Homo sapiens: one gene and its partners. Changing the gene in region 2 together with the main gene of any one other region gives a genetic interaction. Each region holds a gene or a part of one and is shown on either strand. Other genes may lie near its edges.

Region 1 (5,536 bases), on a different chromosome or scaffold from region 2:
GTGCACCCACGCTCATGCATTTGGCTCTGTGTAACCACGGATGGATGGGGCTGCTTGGGTAAAGCTGTGCCCAGGTGAGCATCAGGGTATGATTGTACCTGAGCATGGCTGAGTCTGTGTGGATGGCTGTGTGCCTGTGTGAGTGTGTGTGTGTGTGTGTGTGTGTGTGTGTATTGCTGTGCTTTGTGTCTGTGTATGGTTGTATTATAGGAGCATGTGAGGCTGGCTAACAGCATCTCTATGGGGGCTTTGTTCATGTACAACTGTGTGTGGCTGTGTCTGTACAACTGTGTGTATGGTGATGTTCATGACGTTCATGTATAAAGCTATGTGTTTTGCTATGTGTCCACATATAAAAACACACATTTGCTATGTGTCCTGCAGCCGTATATCCATAATTATGGCCATGTATGTGTGGACATGTCTTGGTGGACAGCTATTTGTGGCATGTCCTTGTGTGAGCAGCTGTATATATGTGGCTGTGTCCACATGTGCAGCCGTGTGTAGACATGGTCACATGTTCTTAGGGGCAGGGGTGTGCCCATGTGTATTATGGCTGTCTACAAGTATAGCTGTGTGTGGTTGCATGTTTATGTGTACTATGCATGTGGCCATGTCCACATTTACAACTGTGTAAGGCTAAGTGTATGTCCTCATCCGTGTGCACACAGCTGGGAGTGGTGGCTGCCTAGCTGTGTGTAACTGTGTGTCCATGTGCTGCGACTGTGCAGCTTGTTTGCTGCAGGCCACATCATGGGCTTTTCTGGCTGATGCTGTACACAGCCATATCTGTGTTTACAGCCCTGTGCCTTTTGTGAGGCTGACTTGTTGAGCAGGTTGGGAGTGTGGCTAGAAGGAGTGTGTGACTCCTCACCTCAGCACCCTCCTGCTGTCAACCCCTCTGCTCCAGAGGCCTGGCCCATTGCTCACCTACCCCAGGGAGCTGTTGCTCTGAGGCAGCCAGAGAGGGTGAGAGCAGCCGGTGGCAGAGTTGGAGGTGGAAGACAGCATGTCTGTCTCCCACTGCCACCTTGTCTCCTGTTAGTGATGGGGCTTGTGTTTGTTTGGGTTTTATGTGTCTGTTTCGTTTCAAAGCTGTATTCTTTCCACAGCAGCAGGACATCAGGTTTCTGTGTCCAGGGAAAAAGCTCGTCCTTGGTGATCACCCCCGCACCCCTACGGACTGCCACACGCACATGTGGGTGTGTGTGCCTGAGGGGTCTGGGCTTGGCATGTTCATTAGCATGTATCTGAGCTGGCCTTGCTTCCACTGACACCTGTGGAAGAAAGGGCAGTGTCGGGAATGTGTGTAGGGATGCCATGCCCCTTGGCACTTGTTAGTGTGTGCACATGTTAGGGGCAGATAGCACAGGCTCTCTAATCCCCATTCCTTCAGCACAGTCTGGCACTACAGCTTATCCACTACCCTCTACCCAGGGGCGTCCTTCCCCATCCTGCTGTGGGAGGGAAGAGTCAAGAGAATCTTCTCAGAGCTGTCCTCCCTCTGCTTGGGCTCCAGCTCTCACTCCCTCCTACGCAGCAGCCAGTTCCAGAAGCCTTTCCCTAGGCCCCTCCCCTCCCAGATGCCCCTGCCATCCCTAACACTCCCTCAGGGTTGACCCTAGTACTTGGTTCTGCAGCCCTTCCTGCAGGTTGCTCTCTCCTTGCTTAAATACCCTTTTTACATGGGAGTGGGTGGCAGGTTTAAAGGGCATCTGCAGGAAGGAAGGGGAGGCCCCATTCTCCTCTGACCTCTCCCTTCCCCCAATCTTTTCCTCATAGTGACTCTGGCTCCAGGTCTCAAAAGTGGCAGAGGACACATGCCTCCAACTCAGGCCTGGGATGTGGACCCAGCTGAAATCGCTGAGTGGGGAGAATAGACTCCACCCGTCTCCCACGCGCCCCTTTACCTATCCCCCAGAGGCACCCCTTGCACTAAGGCCAGCTCCTCCACTCTGCAGTAGCACTATGGGCACCTGTCGGGGCGCAGTGACCTTCCCCACCCCGTGCCCCGTGGCATCCCCCCGCCCCCCACCTATGCTCTCTAGGTGGTAGTCTGACTATGGGGCGGAGTGGGCCACGAAGCACCCGCTCCAGCGCAGAGCGAGAGCGCTCGGGGATTCAGCACCACGAGGCGGACAGCTCCAGGCCCTGAGGTCCCCAGAAAAGCTGGAGCGCGGAGTGTCCAGAGGAGGCGGAGGCTGGGTTGGGAGCAGGAGACCTGGCGTCTGGAGGAACGGAGGAGGGGCTGGGGGCGGGCCGGGGCCGGGGGCGGGGCGGGGCGGGCCGCGATTGAAAGCGGCGGGGCGAGCGGGCGGGCGGAGAGCGCAGAGCCAGCGAGCCAGCGAGCGAGCGAGCGGGAGCCGGAGCCTCGCGCCCCCCGCTCCACTCCGATTCTCTCCGCGCCAGAGCCAGCGCGCCAGGTAGGGTGAGCCGGTGGTGGTGGTGCCGCTGCCGCTGCCGACCTTTTTGGCCCTTACCTCACGTCCCAGGGTCCTGCGGGCCCTCAAGTTGTGGGGCGCCCGCGCTGCTGTGTCCAGACAGCGTTCCCTGAGAGCTCCGGGAAGCGGGAAGACAGCCCCGGGCGTCCCGCCTTTCTTCTCCAGAAAACGCACGCCCCACATCGCACTCCCCCGTTCCTCCTGCTCCAGCGTCCTCTGGTCCTTCTTTCTGTCTGTGCCTCCGTCTTTGTCTCAACCTCTCAGGCTTGCTCGCTCCCTGCCCAGATTTTGTGGCCCAGGCTCCTGGCTGTCTGACTCCGGGTTTCTGTCCCCTTCCTGCCTCTGAGCTTCCGTCTGGGCCTCCCCTCTGGGAGACTTGCGACTTGACCAGTTTTGGCTTCAGCCCCCATCTGGGTCCCTGTCTCCATCTGTGCTGGTCTTCCTCCCTGCTTCTCCCTCGCTTGCCTGGGTAAGCTGCTGCTTTCCTGATCCCCAGAGGAGCCCAGTGCCCCTGCCCTGGGGAGCTGAGGGGGCAAAATGAAGAGGCTCAGCCTCCGTGGCCAGCACATGGGGTCCTTGAGTTAGTTGCTGCCCTTCTTCAAACTCAGTTTCCTTTCCTGTTCTGAGGAAAGAGGTATGTCCCTCTCCCAGCCTTTCCAAGCCTGTGTGATTGTGAGAGCCTTTGTGGGGTGTGTGTTTGGGAAGGCAACTGGGGTACAAATGATTGGACGCAGTGGGGAAGAGACAGGGAGGGGGTCTCTGAGGGCCATGGCTAGGGTGGGCAGGGCCCTGAAGCTGAGGATGGGGAGATTGGAAATGGTGACTTTCTCTGCTGGGTCGGGAGTGAAGAGAAAACAGAGGCACAAAATCTCAAGCAGTGTTCTACACAGAGCTAGAGAGTCCCGCACTCTCACCCTCAGCACTGTTTGGAGACTCTAGCCCCCAACCCTGACACACACATACGTGAACATCTGCTTGCCCTGTTGACTTAGGACCTTGAGCCACTTGGGTACCCTCCCTGAGGCCAGCCATTCCACCTTGCTGTCTCATTCCCAGGGCTTAGTGTCTCTATTCCTTCCTCAGTCAGCAAACTGTGGGGATGGCTTTTTAAGAACCAAAGGTTAGAACCCTTGGGTGTTCACATGGGCTCCAGTCTCCCCACGGGTTGGAGACTGTCCCTTAGAGATGCTTCCCTTCCTCTTCCCTGGTGGGTCCTGAGACAGCAGTTCCTTCTCTCTGGAAATCCAAGGCTCAGGATGGGGACCTCTGAGTTTGTGACTGTGACATAGTCTGTTCCAAAGGTATTGACCTCGGGGTCCTGGGAGGTTTGTGCTGTTCTTGGACACCCTTTGAATTACAGAGGGGTCAGCATTGGCTGGGGTCTCCTGTCCTCTGCCTGGGACTTCACTGCTTGCATCTCTCCCCACTGCTGAGTTTGGTAGGGGAATATGGCCCATCTCTCACCAAGCTGAGGCCAGGGCTGAGAGACAGGTCCAGGGGAGTCCCAGGAGCTTCTCAACCTACTTAATGACACCATCCTGTCCCTCCCTGGCTTTTGAGTACCTAGGAAAGGGGCTCGTGGGGAGGCAGAGTCAGAAGGGGCAGCTGCTCTCAGGTTCCACTTTTCCTGGTCTGTTTTTCTGTCTTTCTATCTCTCTGCAGGAGCTGGGTCCCTTCGCATCTCTCTTCTTGTCTGTCCTTTCCTGGTCCCTGTTTCCTCCTCTCTTTGCCTTCGCTGCTTCTAATCTCATCCCCTGGAGACCCAGGTCTGCGGGACCCATCCATCCCCTTTGGGGCCATGGGATCGCTGCTTGCGCTCCTGGCACTGCTGCTGCTGTGGGGTGCTGTGGCTGAGGGCCCAGCCAAGAAGGTGCTGACCCTGGAGGGAGACTTGGTGCTGGGTGGGCTGTTCCCAGTGCACCAGAAGGGCGGCCCAGCAGAGGACTGTGGTCCTGTCAATGAGCACCGTGGCATCCAGCGCCTGGAGGCCATGCTTTTTGCACTGGACCGCATCAACCGTGACCCGCACCTGCTGCCTGGCGTGCGCCTGGGTGCACACATCCTCGACAGTTGCTCCAAGGACACACATGCGCTGGAGCAGGCACTGGACTTTGTGCGTGCCTCACTCAGCCGTGGTGCTGATGGCTCACGCCACATCTGCCCCGACGGCTCTTATGCGACCCATGGTGATGCTCCCACTGCCATCACTGGTGTTATTGGCGGTTCCTACAGTGATGTCTCCATCCAGGTACGTGGAAGCCACCCAAATGGGGGCTAGGGAGGGAGGCCGGAGGTGGTGACCCAGAATTCCTGCTGAAAAGGGGCTCATGGGCTGCTGTGAATTGGAAGGGAAACTAGAAGCTTCCTTGCAGTAGCTTTTACAGAAGCTAAGAAAGTGCCCTGGTCACATAATGGTGGTCGATTTTTAGAGACTGTGCAAGAGAACATCTTACTCTCATTACTCCCACACACACACACACCCTCACACACACACACACACCCCACACACCCTCACACACACACACAGCCCCCCACACACCCACACACACCCGACACACCCACACACACCCAACACACCCACACACACGCACCCCACACACCCACACACACCCCACACCCACCCCCACACCCACACACACACCCAGACACACACACCCTCACACACACACACACCCTCACCCTTGATGTTAACCCTGAGGGGCTTAATAGTCAGGTCTCCCACTTACTAACTGCATGACCATGGCACGTTATTTCTCTTTTCTGTGTCACAGCTTCTTCCTTATAAAATTGGATTCACAACACTTTTTTTTTTTTTCTTTTTTGAGACAGGATATCGCTCTGTCTCCCAGGCTGGAGTGCAGTGGTGAGATCTCAGCCCACTGCAATCTCTGCCTCCCGGGTTTAAGTGATTCTCCTGCCTCAGCCTCCCAAGTAGCTGGGATTACAGGCGCCTGCCACCATGCCCGGCTAATTTTTGTATTTTTAGTAGAGACGAGCCTGACCTCACCACGTTGGTCAGGCTGGTCTCAAACTCCCGACTTCAGGTGATCCACCCGCCTCGGCCTCCCAAAGTGCTGGGATTATAGGCATGAGCC
Region 2 (5,056 bases):
ATTGCTTGAGCCCAGGAGTTCAAGGCTGCAGTAAGCTACGATGGTGCCCCTGCCACTCCAGCCTGGGCAACAGAATGAGACCCTGTCTGGGTTTGCGGGAGAAGTTATTTACAATGTTTTGAAAATATCCTTTAGCCCAGGCATGGTGGCTCACACCTGTAATCTTAGCACTTTGGGAGGCCGAGGCAGGTGGATCACTTGAGTTCAGAAGTTCCAGACCAGCCTGGCCAACATGGCAAAACCCCCTCTCTACTAAAAATACAAAAATTAGGCAGGCATAGTGATACATGTCTGTAATCCCAGCTACTGGTGAACACTCCAGCCTGGTGACAAAACAAGACTTTGTCTCAAAAAAAAAAAAAAGAAAAGAAAGGAAAAGAAAATGACCCTCAGATATAATTCTCATATCACCAGTTGGCCTTTCTTGACATCTCTTTTAGTCTTCTCTCTTTTTCAGAAATGTGAGTTCTTTGCCAAATGTTTTGAACTGAATTTTAGGTCATTAAATTGTGAGTTTGGGAATATAGTGGAAGGGACATGTGAGTGTTTTAGATTAGTAGAATGACAATCATTTCATTTTCTTTAAGTATTTTCATCTTTTGTTTTTAGGAATGGTGGACTCATCTTTGGTTAAATGAAGGTTTTGCATCCTGGATTGAATATCTGTGTGTAGACCACTGCTTCCCAGAGTATGATATTTGGACTCAGTTTGTTTCTGCTGATTACACCCGTGCCCAGGAGCTTGACGCCTTAGATAACAGCCATCCTATTGAAGTGAGCCATACTTTCTAACCATTAGCCTATGACTGCTCTCATTTACAATGAAATACGTAATTTGTTACATAGATACTTTGGACTTTGAAAATAAGAGAAAATAGCATGGGTGATTTTACTGGTTCATATTTCTAGTCTTGAAAAGCTAGTAAGTCTAAGTTCTAATTAACATTTCTTTTTAAGGTAGGCAGTAAAAAAAAATTGGTCTGGCCAGGCGCAGTGGCTTATGCCTGTAATCCTAGCATTTTGGGAGGCTGAGGCAGGTGGATCACCTGAGGTCGGGAGTTTGAGACCAGCCTGACCAATATGGAGAAACCCCGTCTTTACTAAAAATACAAAATTAGCTGGGCACGGTGGCGCATGCCTGTAATCCCAGCTACTCGGGAGGCTGAGGCAGGAGAATCACTTGAACCTGGGAGGCAGAGGTTGCGGTGAGCCGAGATCGTGCCATTGCACTCCAGCCTGGGCAACAAGAGCAAAAAACTCTGCCAAAAAAAAAGAAAAAGAATAGTATGGGAGAAGTCATACCTATTGGGTAACACTATGGTTCCATTGTTTATGTCAAGGAAAATTCTGGACATATTTTATTGTCAGGGTCTGTTTTGTGAATACTTTAATTCTCTTGACTTAGCCTATCCCTACTTCAGTTTATATATATAAATTTTGTATCTAAAGAACTAGAGTTATAATGCTACTTCAACATATTTAATTAGGCTCCCATATAATTGTAATTCATTACAATTAGTGCAAGAAATCTAATGTTCTTCACCTCCATATCTTCCTCATCACTCCTCTGCAACTACCCCAAAAATAAACAGAACCATAGTGGCTTCTTTCCCAGCAGAACAAAGCCAGGACTGGAACCCAGGCTCTAAGGGATGACAGGAATCATGTTCTATTCAACTTTATTATTATTAGTTACTACATTTTTTTGAGGACCATCGTTATACATTATGAGTGAGTTAAAGGCAGAAAAATGTAAGTTAGAAGGGTTTTCCTAGAAAGCGTTTTATGTAATTCAGTATTACAGGCTATCTGCTTCCTGTCATAACCCTGAATCACACTGTCTGCCAGGTCAGTGTGGGCCATCCATCTGAGGTTGATGAGATATTTGATGCTATATCATATAGCAAAGGTGCATCTGTCATCCGAATGCTGCATGACTACATTGGGGATAAGGTAAAAAAAAACTTTAAATATTTCATTCTTTTATGGTGAAATCATAAGAGTTTTGCATGAAAAAAAGTCTCACTTTATTTGGATTAAGTTCCCAAATAGTTTCTGGCTTGTCATTTTTTTTTAATGACCAAAAAGAATGAGAATTCAATTATTTGAAGTTGACTACTCTGGTCTCTTAGATGAGTGATGTGCAGGTGTGTTTGGGAGTGGAAATGGGAGGCTGTTACAAAACTTAAGAGCAAGAATAGAAGGCATAGAGTACGCATTATTAAATAAAAGGCAGTAGGCATCAGAAGGATATATGTGTTTCAGTGTATCTGATACTTGAGTATTTGAGTAAATTTGTTTTTGATTACTGATATACAAATATACTATAAATTCTGAGATCTGACTTCCCTGGATTTTAAAAATTGTGTTTTCTCAGGACTTTAAGAAAGGAATGAACATGTATTTAACCAAGTTCCAACAAAAGAATGCTGCCACAGGTAATCTCTAATAGCTTGAGATAGAAATGGAGAGAAAGTATTGTCACTCTATCCAGGCTGGGACATTTTATTTTTGTTCTGAATACTTAAGGTCAGGATCCATGTAATAAATAAATTAGCCTTATTTGAAGCTGTGTTCAGGTTGAATATCTCTAATCTCAAAATCTGAAATTTGAAATGCTCCAGAATCTGAAACTTTTTCTTTCCTTTCTTTCTTTTTTTTAATTAAAGTTCTAGGGTGCATGTGCACAATGTGCAGGTTTGTTACGTCAGTATACATGTGCGGGCCATGTTGGTTTGCTGCACCCATTAACTCGTCATTTACATTAGGTATTTCTCCTAATGCTATCCCTCCCCCAGCCCCCTACCCCATGACAGGCCCTGGTGTGTGATGTTCCCCGCCCTGTGTTCAAGTGTTCTCATTGTTCAATTCCCACCCAAAATCTGAAACTTTTTGAGTGCCAACATGATGCTCAAAGGAAATGCTCATTGGAACATTTTAGATTTTGGATATTCCAATTATAGATGCTCAGCTAGTAAGTATAATGCAAATATTCCAAAATCCAAAAGAAATATGAAATTCAAAACATTTCTGGTCCCAAGCATTTTGGATAAGGGATACTCAACCTGCAGTAAGTCATAGGGTCAACATGAATCAGGACTCGTTATCCCTTTGGTCATCCTCCAGCATTCTGCTTTCCATAACTGAGTATTTTGCCAACTTAAAGAGTCTGGGCCGGGTGTGGTGGCTCACGCCTGTAATCCTAGCACTTTGGGAGGCCAGGATGTGCGGACTGATTGAGCCCAGTTCAAGACCAGCTTGCAACATAGCGAGACCCCACCTCTACAAAAAATACAAAAATATTAGCCGGGTGTGGTGGTATGTGCCTGTAGTCCCAGCTACTCAGGAGGCTGAAGTGGGAAGGGTCACTTGAGCCCAGGAGTTTGAGGTTACAGTGAGCAATCATGGCACCACTGCACTCCAGCCTGGGCAACAGAACAAGATCCTGTCTGAAAAAAATAAAAAATAAAGGGAATACAGTCATGTGTTGCTTAACAACAGGGATATGTTCTGAGAAATATGTTGTCAGGCAATTTCATCAATATGTGAACATCATAGAATGTACTTACAGAAACCTACACAGTATGTCCTAGGCTATGTACACCTAGCCTACATGGTATATACCCTGTTGCTGCTAGGCTACAAAATACCTGTACAGCATGTTACTGTACTGAATACCATAGGCAATTATAACACAATGGTATTTGTATACCTGAACATTTCTAAATATAGAAAAGGTACAGTAAAAATATGATATTAAAGATGCTCCACCAGCTGGCTGATATGCCTATAATCCCAGCACTTTGGGAGGCTGGGGCAGGTGGACTGCTTGAGTCCAGGAGTTTGAGACCAGCCTGGGCACCATGCCAAAACCTCGCTTCTATAAAAAGTACAAAAATTAGCTGGGTGTGGTGGCATGTGCCTGTAGTCCCAGCTACTTGGGAGGCTGAGGTAGGAGGATCACTTGAGCCTGGGAGGTCAAAGCTGCAGTGAGCTGTGATTGGGCCACTGCACTCCAGCCTGGGCAACAGCGAAACGCGGTCTCAAAAGAAAATAAGGTGCTACACCTGAATGCAGCTTATAGGACAACTTATAGAGGTTGTTCTAGTTGAGTGAGTGGTGAGTGAATATGAAGGCCTAAGACATTACTATACACTACTATAGATATTATAAATACTTTACACTTAGGCTACACTGAATTTATAAAAATAATTTTTCTTTCTTGAATAATAAATTAACCTTAGCTTACTGTAACATTTTAAATTTACTTTTTAATTTTTTTAACTTTTTGATTCTTTTCAATTCTTTTTTTTTTTTTTTGAGACAGAGTTTCGCTCTTGTTGCCCAGGCTGGAGTGCAATGGTGCAGTCTTGGCTCACCACAACCTCCGCCTCCCGGGTTCAAGTGATTCTCCTGCCTCAGCCTCCTGAGTAGCTGGGATTACAGGCATGTGCCACCACGGCCGGCTAATTTTGTATTTTATTTTATGTTATGTTATGTTATGTTATGTTATGTTATGTTATGTTATGTTATGTTATTTTTTGAGACGGAGTCTCGCTCTGTCGCCCAGGCTGGAGTGCAGTGGCGCGATCTCGGCTCACTGCAAGCTCCACCTCCCGGGTTCAGGCCATTCTCCTGCCTCAGCCTCCCGAGTAGCTGGGACTACAGGCGCCCGCCACCACGCCCGGCTAATTTTTTGTATTTTTAGTAGAGACAGGGTTTCACTGTGTTAGCCAGGATGGTCTCGATCTCCTGACCTCATGATCCGCCCGCCTCTGCCTCCCAAAGTGCTGGGATTACAGGCGTGAGCCACCGCGCCTGGCCTATTTTATTTTTTTTAAAGACAGGGTCTTGCTCTGTCGCCCAGGCTGGAGTGCAGTGGTGCAGTCTTGGCTTCGTTGCAACCTCCGCCTCCTGGGTTCAAGTGATTCTCCTGTCTCAGCCTCCCAAGTAGCTGGGATTACAGGTGTGTGCCACCATGCCCAGCTAATTTTTGTATTTTTAGTAGAGACAGGGTTTCACCATGTTGGCCAGGCTGGTTTCGAACTCCTGACCT
Region 3 (5,056 bases), on a different chromosome or scaffold from region 2:
TGATTTCTCATCTAGAAAATGTGAAGAATGTGACTTGGTAGCAATATATTTGATCAAAGTTTTGGGGGTCTGGCTGATACAATTGTTTCAAATCTTTCTTGTTAGTATTGGATGCCCACTGACATCCCAGAGGCCAATTCAGTTTCCAAGCAAAGGAAAATTGATCTTTCTCTTCTGCCAGGAATAGCTTCCTATACCCCCAAAGTCCTATTCAGGTCTTGGGGTACACACTGCCCAGTGGGCCTCTTTCTTATCATCTCAGTTAGAATCCTTTTCTCCCTCTATATATTTTGCAACTTTAACAGTTCAGTTTTTTGGCAATATATTGAACATATTTAAAGTATACAAATTTATCAGTTTTGATATCTGTAAACATCCCATGAAACTATCACTACAATCAAGAAAAACATATTCTTAGCCAGGTGTGGTAGCTCACACAGGTAATCCCAACACTTTAGGAGGTTGAGGCGGGCAGATCACCTGAGGTCAGGAGTTCGAGACCAGCCTGGCCAACATAGTGAGATCTCATCTCTATCGAAAATTTAAAAATTAGTTGGGCGTGGTGGCGGGCGCCTGTAATCCCAGCTACTTGGGAGGCTGAGATAGGGGGATTGCTTGAATCCAGGAGTTCCAGGCTGCAAGGAGCCAAGATTGCACCACGGCACTCCAGCCTGGGAGACAGAGAGGGACCTTGACTTTAGAAGAATAAAAATAAAAAATAAAAAATAAAAATGGCTGGGTGCTGCGGTGGCTCACACCTGTAATCCTAGCACTTTGGGAGGCTGAGGCAGGCAGATCACTTGAGGTCAGGAGCTTGAGACCAGCCTGGCCAACCTGGTGAAACCCTGTCTCTACTAAAAACACAAAAAATTAGCCAGGCGTGGTGGCAGGCGCCTGTAATCCCAGCTACTCGGGAGGCTGAGGCAGGAGGATCACTTGAACCGGGGAGGCAGAGGTTGCAGTGAGCTGAGATTGCGCCACTGCACTCCAGCCTGGGTGACAGGGCGAGACTCCGTCTCCAAAAAAAGAAAAACATATTCATTACCTCCAGAATTTCCTCATGCCCCTCTGTAATTCCTCCCTCCCTCCACCCCCATCTTGCATTTTCCAGAAGTTTATGTAAATGGAATCATATAGCGTGTTCTCTTTTTTGCCTGGCTTCTTTCACTCAGCATAATGATCTTGTGTTTCATCCATACTGCTGCATATATCAATAGTTTGATCCTTTTTATTGCTGAGTGGCATTCCATTGTATGGCTATATCACAATTTATTGATCTATTTACCCACTGATGAAACTTCAAAAAAATGTTAGCCATTCTAATAGGTGTGACCACTGAGATTCTAATTTTGTTACTGCATGTTTCCCCCTGGATGTTCCTCTGGTTCTTTTTAAAATCTGCTATGTCATTAACATTTTTTTTCTGCTCTCTGAAGATATTTTACAAGCTTATTATTGATTTTTAAAAACCTGGGCTAGGCGTGGTAGCTCACACTTGTAATCCCAGCACTTTGGGAGGCTAAGGTGGAAGGATCACTTGAGCCTAGGAGTTGGAGATCAGCCTGGGCAACATAGTGAGACCTCATCTCTACAAAAAAAAAAAAAAGAAAAAGAAAAAAATTAGCTGGGTGTGGTGGTGCACGCCTGTTGTCCCAGCTACTGGGAAGGCTGAGGTGGGTGGATTGCTTGGGTCCAGGAGGTCGAGGCTGCAGTGAGCCATGATCATGCCATTGCACTCCAGCCTGGGCGAGAGCACAATACCTTGTCTCAAAAACAAACGAACCAACTTCGTAAGCTTATTTTTAAAATCTTTGTCTCTTAATTCCAATATATGCAGTAGGTTTGGGTTTGTTTCTACTATCTGTCATTTCTGTTGGGTCTTACTTGTTTCCTTGTGTGCCTGATAATTTTGACTTGCTGGCTACTGCCCTGGAAAAAGTTTATGTCGGGCGGATAGGATGAAGTTAGTGGGGGTTAGGATAAAAGTGTTTGCCTTCAGAGACTTTCTGTTTATACCATACATCTGAAACTATTAGTAAAGAAAGGGGAAACTTCAAATCAAGTACATGGCTTCAGCTCCCCTGGCTGCCCCAGGCTGTGTGTACCTGGGTGCAAATCCATTCAAGGTGGACTGGTGGCCACAATTTGGAAGTTTGTTCCCAATTTCCTCATCTTTTGCTTTGCTCAGTGACAAGGCAGCTTTCTCTATAGTCCTCCGGTGTTGAAGGGAAATAAGGGTATGCTTATCTGTTTCCTTTTAGCCTGGGGGGACTGCCTCTTGCACTCCTAACAATGAGGAGGGTCTTCTAACAGATTCCCCAACTTGTACTGGCCTTAGATCTTAACCTTGGTTCTCTGGCACAGAAGTGTTCAGTAATGACAAATGCCCTGTTTGCAAAATGGGCCACTTGGTAACTCTGATATTCCACTTATCATTCTTATTAAAGGCTTTCACATAAAAATTGGTCACTGAGGCCTGGTGTGGTGGCTCACACCTGTAATCCCAGCACTTTGGGAGGCCAAAGTGGGTGGATCACGAGGTCAGGAGTTCACGACCAGCCTGGCCAACATGGTGAAACCCTGTCTCTACTAAAAATATGTGGTGGCGGGTGCCTGTAATCCCAGCTACTCAGGAGGCTGAGGCAGGAGAATTGTTTGAACCCAGGAGGTAGAGGTTGCAGTGACCTGAGATCATGCCATTGCACTGCAGCCTGGGCCACAGGGCGAGACTCCGTCTCAAAAAAAAAAAAAAAAAAAAAAAAAATTGGTCACTGAGCTCCCCAGTACCTTTTTTTATTTCCCGGACACAGAGTCTCACTCTGTCGTCCAGGCTAGAGTGCAGTGGCGCGATCACGGCTCACTGCAACTTCCACTTCTCGGGCTCAAGCAATTCTCCTGCCTCAGCCTCCCAAGTAGCTGGGATTATAGGTGCCTGCCATCACACCTGGCTAATTTTTTTTTTTTTTTTTATTTCAAGTAGAGACAGGGTTTTACCATGTTGGTCAGGCTAGCTTCGAACTCCTGACCTCAAGTGATCTGCCCACCTCGGCGTCCCAGAGTGCTAGGATTACAGGTGTGAGCCACCATGCCTGGCCCCTGATACCTTTTCAGCTATTCAGTGCTTTCAAGGTCATTTGAAAAACATATTTTCTGCGGCACTTTTCATTTTTTTTCATCAGGAGGATTTATCCAAATAATCTCATCCACCATTACAGGAAATAGGAAGCAAATCTGCTTTTTGCACTGCCATCACTCAGGATTCCTCCAGAGGACTCAGAGTTCTAGAAATTGGTGAAACATTTATATAGATGATCTGACTAGGCAGAAGAGGTCTGGAATCTACACAATTATTTTCAATAAATGCCCATAATATATGGTAACATTAAAGAAGACATTCTGTAAAATGTAAATATCAGTAAGAATATAATGGCATCATCACGGCAACGACTTAAAGATTGCTTTCCTCCTGCTTATGCTTGAACTGTTTCTCGAAGATCAGACTGAAAGACAATGCCAGATGGAAGGCTGCTGCTTCTCCATTTGGGCCCACGTTTCCTTATGTATAAAATGATGGCATCTGAAGTCCTCATCAGCTCCAACATTCTAAATTTAATACTATTTTTTGGGGAAACATGGGATAGCTGAAAGAGGCGATCAAGCAAAAGAGATTAACTGAGAAATCTCTTAACTAGTGAGAAAAATAGATAAAAGCAGGTAGAAATTTCTATGGACTCAATGTCTTTGGTCTCTTTTAGCTGGGTTCAAGTATTTTAGGAGGAACTGGCAGGATGCTTAATGGCTGTTATTTTTTGCCACATGAAACAAAACTCAGACATTATCTCTTTTGTGCTAGAAATAATCTGGTATATTGCCCAAGTACCAACAAAGGTAAAACCATCAATATTTTCCAAAAGACAGTTCAACTAAGGAAACGGTAACAATAATAGCAGAAATAGATTTTATCAAAATATACAGTGATCTGTGACTCCTTTTCTCTCAGTTAAAAACAGTGCCTAAAACCCCTAACTTTAGCCTGCTTTTAGGGCTTAAACTTTCTAGCAGAAAAGGTATTTTTAAAGGACTGGCAAGGTAAAGAACAAAGCTTCTGACTACCTCCTTCTAACAGTGAAATACATTTTATCTTCAAATACTCTGAGTGACACTGAAGCACTGCACCTACATTTTTTGCTGGTGGTGGGAATGGGATGGGCATGAAAGCATGTAGAAGGGCAAGGAGAACGTACATTTTTTTAATGCCATTCTAAAACAATTATAACAGCATATAGGAGTGGAGGGCTCTGCTGTGAGACCATGACTTGGCTCAGGGCTGCTCATCCAATCTCTTTCCAGACCTTCCTTTCTTTTTGTGTAAAATGAAGCCCTGACTCTGCAACTAGGATCTCACTAGATACTGAAGATATAGAATTCTTGGATGACTAATTTAAATTTTGTTTGGCTCGTAAAGGAAGGAATATATCAAACAGGTTTTACACTCTAAAATAATATAAAATTGGAAAATGGATGGTCAGGGCTTTGTTTTTATAACCAAGCAAAGCAAAACACGCATAAAAACATACCATTCCTGAAGTTCAGGAGAAGGAATGAGACCTGCAGTTCCATTTTTGGAGTTTTCCAGTTTACCCTGCCACCAATTATGATCATCCTTACTAATAATCTGGATGATGTCACCAACTCTGAATCGAATGCCAGCTTCTTTACAGGGGATGAGGTCATCCTTGGCTGGATCATATTCAAATTGTGCTCTTACATAGATCTATAAAACAGGAGTTCGTAAGAAAGGATGCCATAGTGATGTGAAAGAGAAGTTAGCTCTAATGTCATAACCACACACCAACAGTTACAATACAAACAGGACATCAGATGGTGAAAGCAAAAACGATGCATGGAAATACGACACAAAAAACTTCTACCGCTAGAAACAATGTACTAGTAATCTTTGATGAGTATAGCTTCAAAACTTTGCTGTTTTTATTTGGAAGGAACACTTGAAATACTTGTTTAATAAAAATAAAGACTTAATTTATGCTTTTACTGT
Region 4 (5,056 bases), on a different chromosome or scaffold from region 2:
AAAAAAAGTAAAGCTCTTTGATTCAAGGAGTTATATAAACACAGGAGGAAGAAAATGACTTCAGGCTAAAGAAAAACAACAGCAACAAGAAAACACCATCTGGTTTACAACCAAAACAGGTTTGATTGCAATGCCATGATTGCTAAACCACAGCTCTACCCTAGTGTTCCTAAGACATTCCAAACAGCTTCCTTGGCCTTTTCTTAAGTCCTTTTAATCTCTAGGTAAATGGAGTACATTTGAGACCAGCAAGAAAACTCCTCACACTGTTGGTAGAAATAAACATTGGCACAAACTACCAGCACTCAAAATGTACATGACCTTTAACCCAGTGATTCATTTCCCAGGAATTTCTCCAGGCACAACACCCACAGAGGCACAGGATGTCCTCTGCAAGGTGTTTACAGTAACAGGGGATTGGAAACAACCTAAATGGCCATCAACAGGAGCCTGGCTTAACAGGTGAATTGCATGCTCACACCACGGAATACTGTGTGGTTCTCTGAAAGAATGGGGTAGGTCCTTATGTACTAATGTGAAACCTCTAAGATAGCACTTTAATGAAACGAAGGTGTCTTGCAGTGTATACTGTAGTGTGCTATGATATTTATAAGAGAAAAAAGGCCTGAAAGATAAGCTTACGTTTTCTTGTTTTTGTTTTTGAGACAGAGTTTCAGTCTTGTTGCCCAGACTGGAATGCAATGGCTTTATCTTGGCTCACTGCAACCTCTGCCTCCCAGGTTCAAACAGTTCTCCTGCCTCAGCCTCCCAGGTAACTGGGATTACAGGCATGCACCACCACACCCGGCTAATTTTGTATTTTTAGTAGAGACAGGGTTTCTCCATGTTGGTCAGGCTAGTCTCGAACTCCCAACCTCAGGTGATCCGCCCACCTCAGCCTCCCAAAGTGCTGGGATTACAGGCGTGAGCCACCACTATAATATTTATAAAAGAAAAAAGGCCTGAGAGAGAGATGTGCTTATTTTTTCATATTCTTTTTTCTTTTCTTTTCTTTTTTTTTTTTTTTTTTTGAGATGGAATCTCACTTTATCACCCAGGCTGGAGTGCAGTGGGGTGATCTCGGCTCACTGCAACCTCCACCTCCTGGGTTCAAATGATTCTACTGCCTTAGCCTCCCAAGTAGCTGGGACTTCAGGAGAATGCTACCACACCCAGCTAATTTTTGTATTTTTAGTAGAAACGAGGTTTCACCATGTTGGCCAGGCTGGTCTCAAACTCCTGACCTCAGGTGATCCGCCTGCCTCAGCATCCCAAAGTGCTGGGATTACTGGCGTGAGCCACCATGCCCAGCCTATTTTCTCATATTCTTTAAATATAATCACACAATGTAAGATACATGAATGGTATAGACATGTGGTCACATATATGAACCAACACTGAGGATGGGGAGCCAGGAGACTGACTTCTTTCTTTTTTTTTTTTTTTTTTTTGAGATGGAGTTTCCCTCTTGTTGCCCAGGCTGGAGTGCAATGGCGCAATCTCGGCTACCGCAACCTCCGCCTCCCGGATTCAAGCAATTCTCCTGCCTCAGCCTCCCGAGTAGCTAGGATTACAGGCATACACTACCATGCCCAGCTAATTTTGCATTTTTAGTAGAGACGGGGTTTCTCCATGTTGGTCAGGCTGGTCTTGAGCTCCCAACTTCAGGTGATCCGCCCACCTCGGCCTCCCAAAGTGCTGGGGTTACAGGTGTGAGCCACCGTGCCTGGCCAAGACTGACTTTTTAATCTTTAACCCCTAGTATTACTTGTAATTTTTACCATATGCCCACATGTCTTAGTCGACTAAAAGAAATTTCCATACAACTCCAACGTACCCTCTGGAGTTGAAGACTCCTTTCTGCGGCTGGATGGCGGGGCCAGCAGGCTCATGGCACTGGGCTGGTGCTCTGGCGACCGCACGATGGCGGACATGGCGATCTGCTGCCTCGCGGTGGCTGGCGTGGATGGGTGTGGGTGGTCCGTTGCTTTGCGGTGGGCAGCTGCAGAGAGACCAGGACAATGCCTTTTGGTTAGCTGGGTCGCCTAGAGGACCAAACTAAGCCGAATGTCCCTGGGCTATCTTTCAAGGACCCAAGACCAAAAGAATATGCGTCACATCAACTTGGCAATGCACAGGGGCCATACGTTTTTCAGACATGGGATGTCTGGTCTGAAAGCGTATGGGCCATAAACGAAGACACTGAGCTAGTTAGTCTTGGCTGATCTCACTGAGATCAATCCTCTGCCTTTTCCACATCCTTGAGCATTTTGGAGAGAGTGAGCCCCTACCTTCCTCCCGGGCGGACCGGAGCTCGATGCGGGTCTTCTGAAGGGCTTCCTCTAGCTCTGCACAGCGAGCTTTCTCCTTCTCCAGGGCCAGCTTCAGCTCATTGTACTGCAGAGGAACCTGTGTGGGTAAAGCAGGGTCCTCTTTCCGTCGACTAAATAAACCCTAGCAATGGAAACAGAGATATCTCCTAACTCCTGGAAACTGGCACTTGAAACTAGCTAAAGGAAATCTGACTCGGGAGGAGCAAACCACAAAAGCCAGGAGCATACTCACTGTAAGTGTATTTAGTAAAAATGGCATGTGAAGGGGGGGAAGGGTAGGCTGAGCCACAGCCCGTTCCAGCCGGCTGAAAAAAATAGGGGTGCGGAAGTTTTCACCAAGAGGATTAAAGATGCTTGAATGGCCACCACCTCTTCCTCTAGCATTGCCAAGACAGGAGAGTCATGTCCTGAGTCTTTCCCATTCAAAAAATGGAATCAGGAGAGTATGGAGTATGGAGTCAGGAGAGATGGTTCAGAGGTCACTCTTGCCTTGGAATATGTCTCATGATGCTCAGTTACAAGACACAGAGATGAGTGTTTTGTAAAAGGAAGCAAAATTTTAAAAGGAATGCTAAAATGAGGTCAAAACAAGGGGCTTACTCAAAAAAAAATGCAAATGAAAATATTTACTATACATGGAAAAAAAAGGAAAACAGAATAATGCAACTTAAAAAAAAGGTAACTAAAAAAAATAACAAATGGAAACACCCTAACTAAATCAAGTGACATAACCAGGTAACAGTTCACTGCTAAAATAAAAAAGATTAAATATCATAAGCATAACAACCATATACAGTCACGCAGCATGCAAGAAAATCCTTCCCGTGCAGCCAACGTCTAGTGGGAGGCGGCCTCTGAATGTTGTGCTCATGCCCTTACAGCGAAGATGGCACCGGAAATATTGAGACAACTGTCAACTTCAGCCCTCCACTCCTTCCTCCTAGGTATTCCAAGTCATCAAGGCCTCTCCTGCAAAACCACTGCCACTGCTGCTATGGTATGCTTCTGCATTTGGAAGGAAACTGCAAGCTTCTTCAAGACTTTTCTGGAACTGAGAACACCTGGCCAAACCTAGTATGAAGGCTTTAGTGGTTTGGGAAAGCATGTATAGATCAGGCTTATGAAAAACAATCTTCTCATGTGCACTATGTATAACCCTGCCCCTAGTTTGTAATTTGTCTCCTGCAATCTAAAAGGGTTGTTCAGTACTTGGCAGAGGGGAGAAGTGTCCAGTCAGACACTTCAGGCAGGTCACCCCAGCTCCCTGAGTTCTAGTCTCTTTGTGAGCCGATCAAAAGGACTGGACTAGATCACTGTTAAAGTCCTTTCTGGAGTGTGGTACGAGAGACCTGAACTGCTGAAGCCCCATACTTGTGACTTGCTAACTCCCTCTAGAGTCATGTATGCATGACTTGGTATAAATCTTTCTCTCTGCATACATCCCTCTGCCCCAACTGCTATGTGTGTGGGCTGGGGAGGGATTACTTCTTTAACAAAGATACTATGATTTGAATGGTCATAAACAAAAAGTAGTTTGTTAGACTTGATCACTGATATCTTTCAGTAAGACCTATTATAATTATCTCAAAATCTATTTTTCAACCCAAAATAAAACAACAAAAAAAGTATACTTTGTTTTCTTCTATGTTCCTATGATCATATATCACAGTGGTGTCCACTGAGCCATGAATGATGAGTGAAACTGACAATTCCCACTTTTCAAACACTTTGACTCACCTTTTTCTTTTTAGCAGGTTGGTCCATTTTGGCTTGCAGAAAATCAATGAGTTTGGTTTGTTGAGAAATAGTGCCTTCCATTTTCACCTTTTCATGAGAATAGAGAACCTAAAATTCAAGAAAACAAACTAACCTCAAATCCAGACAGAAGTATACTTTTAAAGTTGGTACTTTAAGAAACTAAAAAGTGAAGTTGTTAGGACACTAATATATGAAAATCCAACACAAACAGTACTGAGTCAGTATGTATTTAGTCCAGTTTTACTGCAAAAGAGAAAAAAGATATATTTATAGATAAATATGTGAAAAAGTAAAAATAGCAACAGGTTCCTTGTAGGTCATGGTCACTATAGAAATCTTCCAACTTCTCTGAATGTTTGCAATCTTTGAAAATAAAATCTTGGGGAAAATACACACAATATGCAGCACAAAGATACTGACCATTTTACCAGATGACTGTACAATCATGCTTTGCCTCTGCAGACTTATTTATTTATTTATTTTCTTGAGACAAAGTCTTGCTCTGTTGCCCGGGCTGGAGTGCAGTGGTGTGATCTCAGCCCACTGCAACCTCCACCTCCCGGGTTCAAGCCATTCTCCTTCCTCAGTCTCCCGAGTAGCTGGGACTACAGGCACCCGCCACCACGCCAGGCTAATTTTTGTATTTTTAGTAGAGATGGGGTTTCACCATGTTGGCCAGGCTGGTCTCGAACTCCTGACCTCAAGTAATCTGCCCTCCTCAGCCTCCCGAAGTGCTGGGATTACAGGCATGAGCCACTGCGCCCAGCCGTGCAGACCATTTTTAAGCAGATTCCCTCTGCCAGTCCTCACCTGAATGTTTTCCAGCTGATACTCCAAGTCACTTCTTTCTGTCTTCAGTAGATCAGCCCGATCTAGAGCTTCTTGCAGTCCTTGAGTCAGACGGAAAATGTGATTTTTCTGCAGGTCCATCTGCTGCTGTAATTTGGCTTGCTAGTGGGGAGAAG

Evidence for each region. Genes that interact genetically often act in the same process or in processes that back each other up.
Region 1: changes in NPEPPS (region 2) and GRM2 together harm fitness more than expected from each alone (negative genetic interaction), as found in Homo sapiens cells (one large-scale study listed by BioGRID).
Region 3: changes in NPEPPS (region 2) and CASK together harm fitness less than expected from each alone (positive genetic interaction), as found in Homo sapiens cells (one large-scale study listed by BioGRID).
Region 4: changes in NPEPPS (region 2) and CIT together harm fitness more than expected from each alone (negative genetic interaction), as found in Homo sapiens cells (one large-scale study listed by BioGRID).

The regions. Positions count from the first base shown.
Region 1 is NC_000003.12:51,704,745-51,710,280, forward strand, and holds the start of GRM2 (metabotropic glutamate receptor 2 isoform a precursor), read left to right. Parts: upstream 1-2,323; 5' UTR 2,324-2,423; exon of another isoform or gene 2,424-4,103; 5' UTR 4,104-4,239; coding exon 4,240-4,689; intron 4,690-5,536. UniProt on the Homo sapiens protein: Dimeric G protein-coupled receptor which is activated by the excitatory neurotransmitter L-glutamate. Plays critical roles in modulating synaptic transmission and neuronal excitability.
Region 2 is NC_000017.11:47,590,108-47,595,163, forward strand, and holds part of NPEPPS (puromycin-sensitive aminopeptidase), read left to right. Parts: intron 1-609; coding exon 610-774; intron 775-1,796; exon of another isoform or gene 1,797-1,848; coding exon 1,849-1,953; intron 1,954-2,377; coding exon 2,378-2,438; intron 2,439-5,056. UniProt on the Homo sapiens protein: Aminopeptidase with broad substrate specificity for several peptides. Involved in proteolytic events essential for cell growth and viability. May act as regulator of neuropeptide activity.
Region 3 is NC_000023.11:41,549,142-41,554,197, forward strand, and holds part of CASK (peripheral plasma membrane protein CASK), read right to left. Parts: intron 4,775-5,056; coding exon 4,578-4,774; intron 1-4,577. UniProt on the Homo sapiens protein: Multidomain scaffolding Mg(2+)-independent protein kinase that catalyzes the phosphotransfer from ATP to proteins such as NRXN1, and plays a role in synaptic transmembrane protein anchoring and ion channel trafficking.
Region 4 is NC_000012.12:119,716,408-119,721,463, forward strand, and holds part of CIT (citron Rho-interacting kinase), read right to left. Parts: intron 5,043-5,056; coding exon 4,902-5,042; intron 4,179-4,901; coding exon 4,071-4,178; intron 2,455-4,070; coding exon 2,292-2,454; intron 2,003-2,291; coding exon 1,838-2,002; intron 1-1,837. UniProt on the Homo sapiens protein: Plays a role in cytokinesis. Required for KIF14 localization to the central spindle and midbody. Putative RHO/RAC effector that binds to the GTP-bound forms of RHO and RAC1. It probably binds p21 with a tighter specificity in vivo.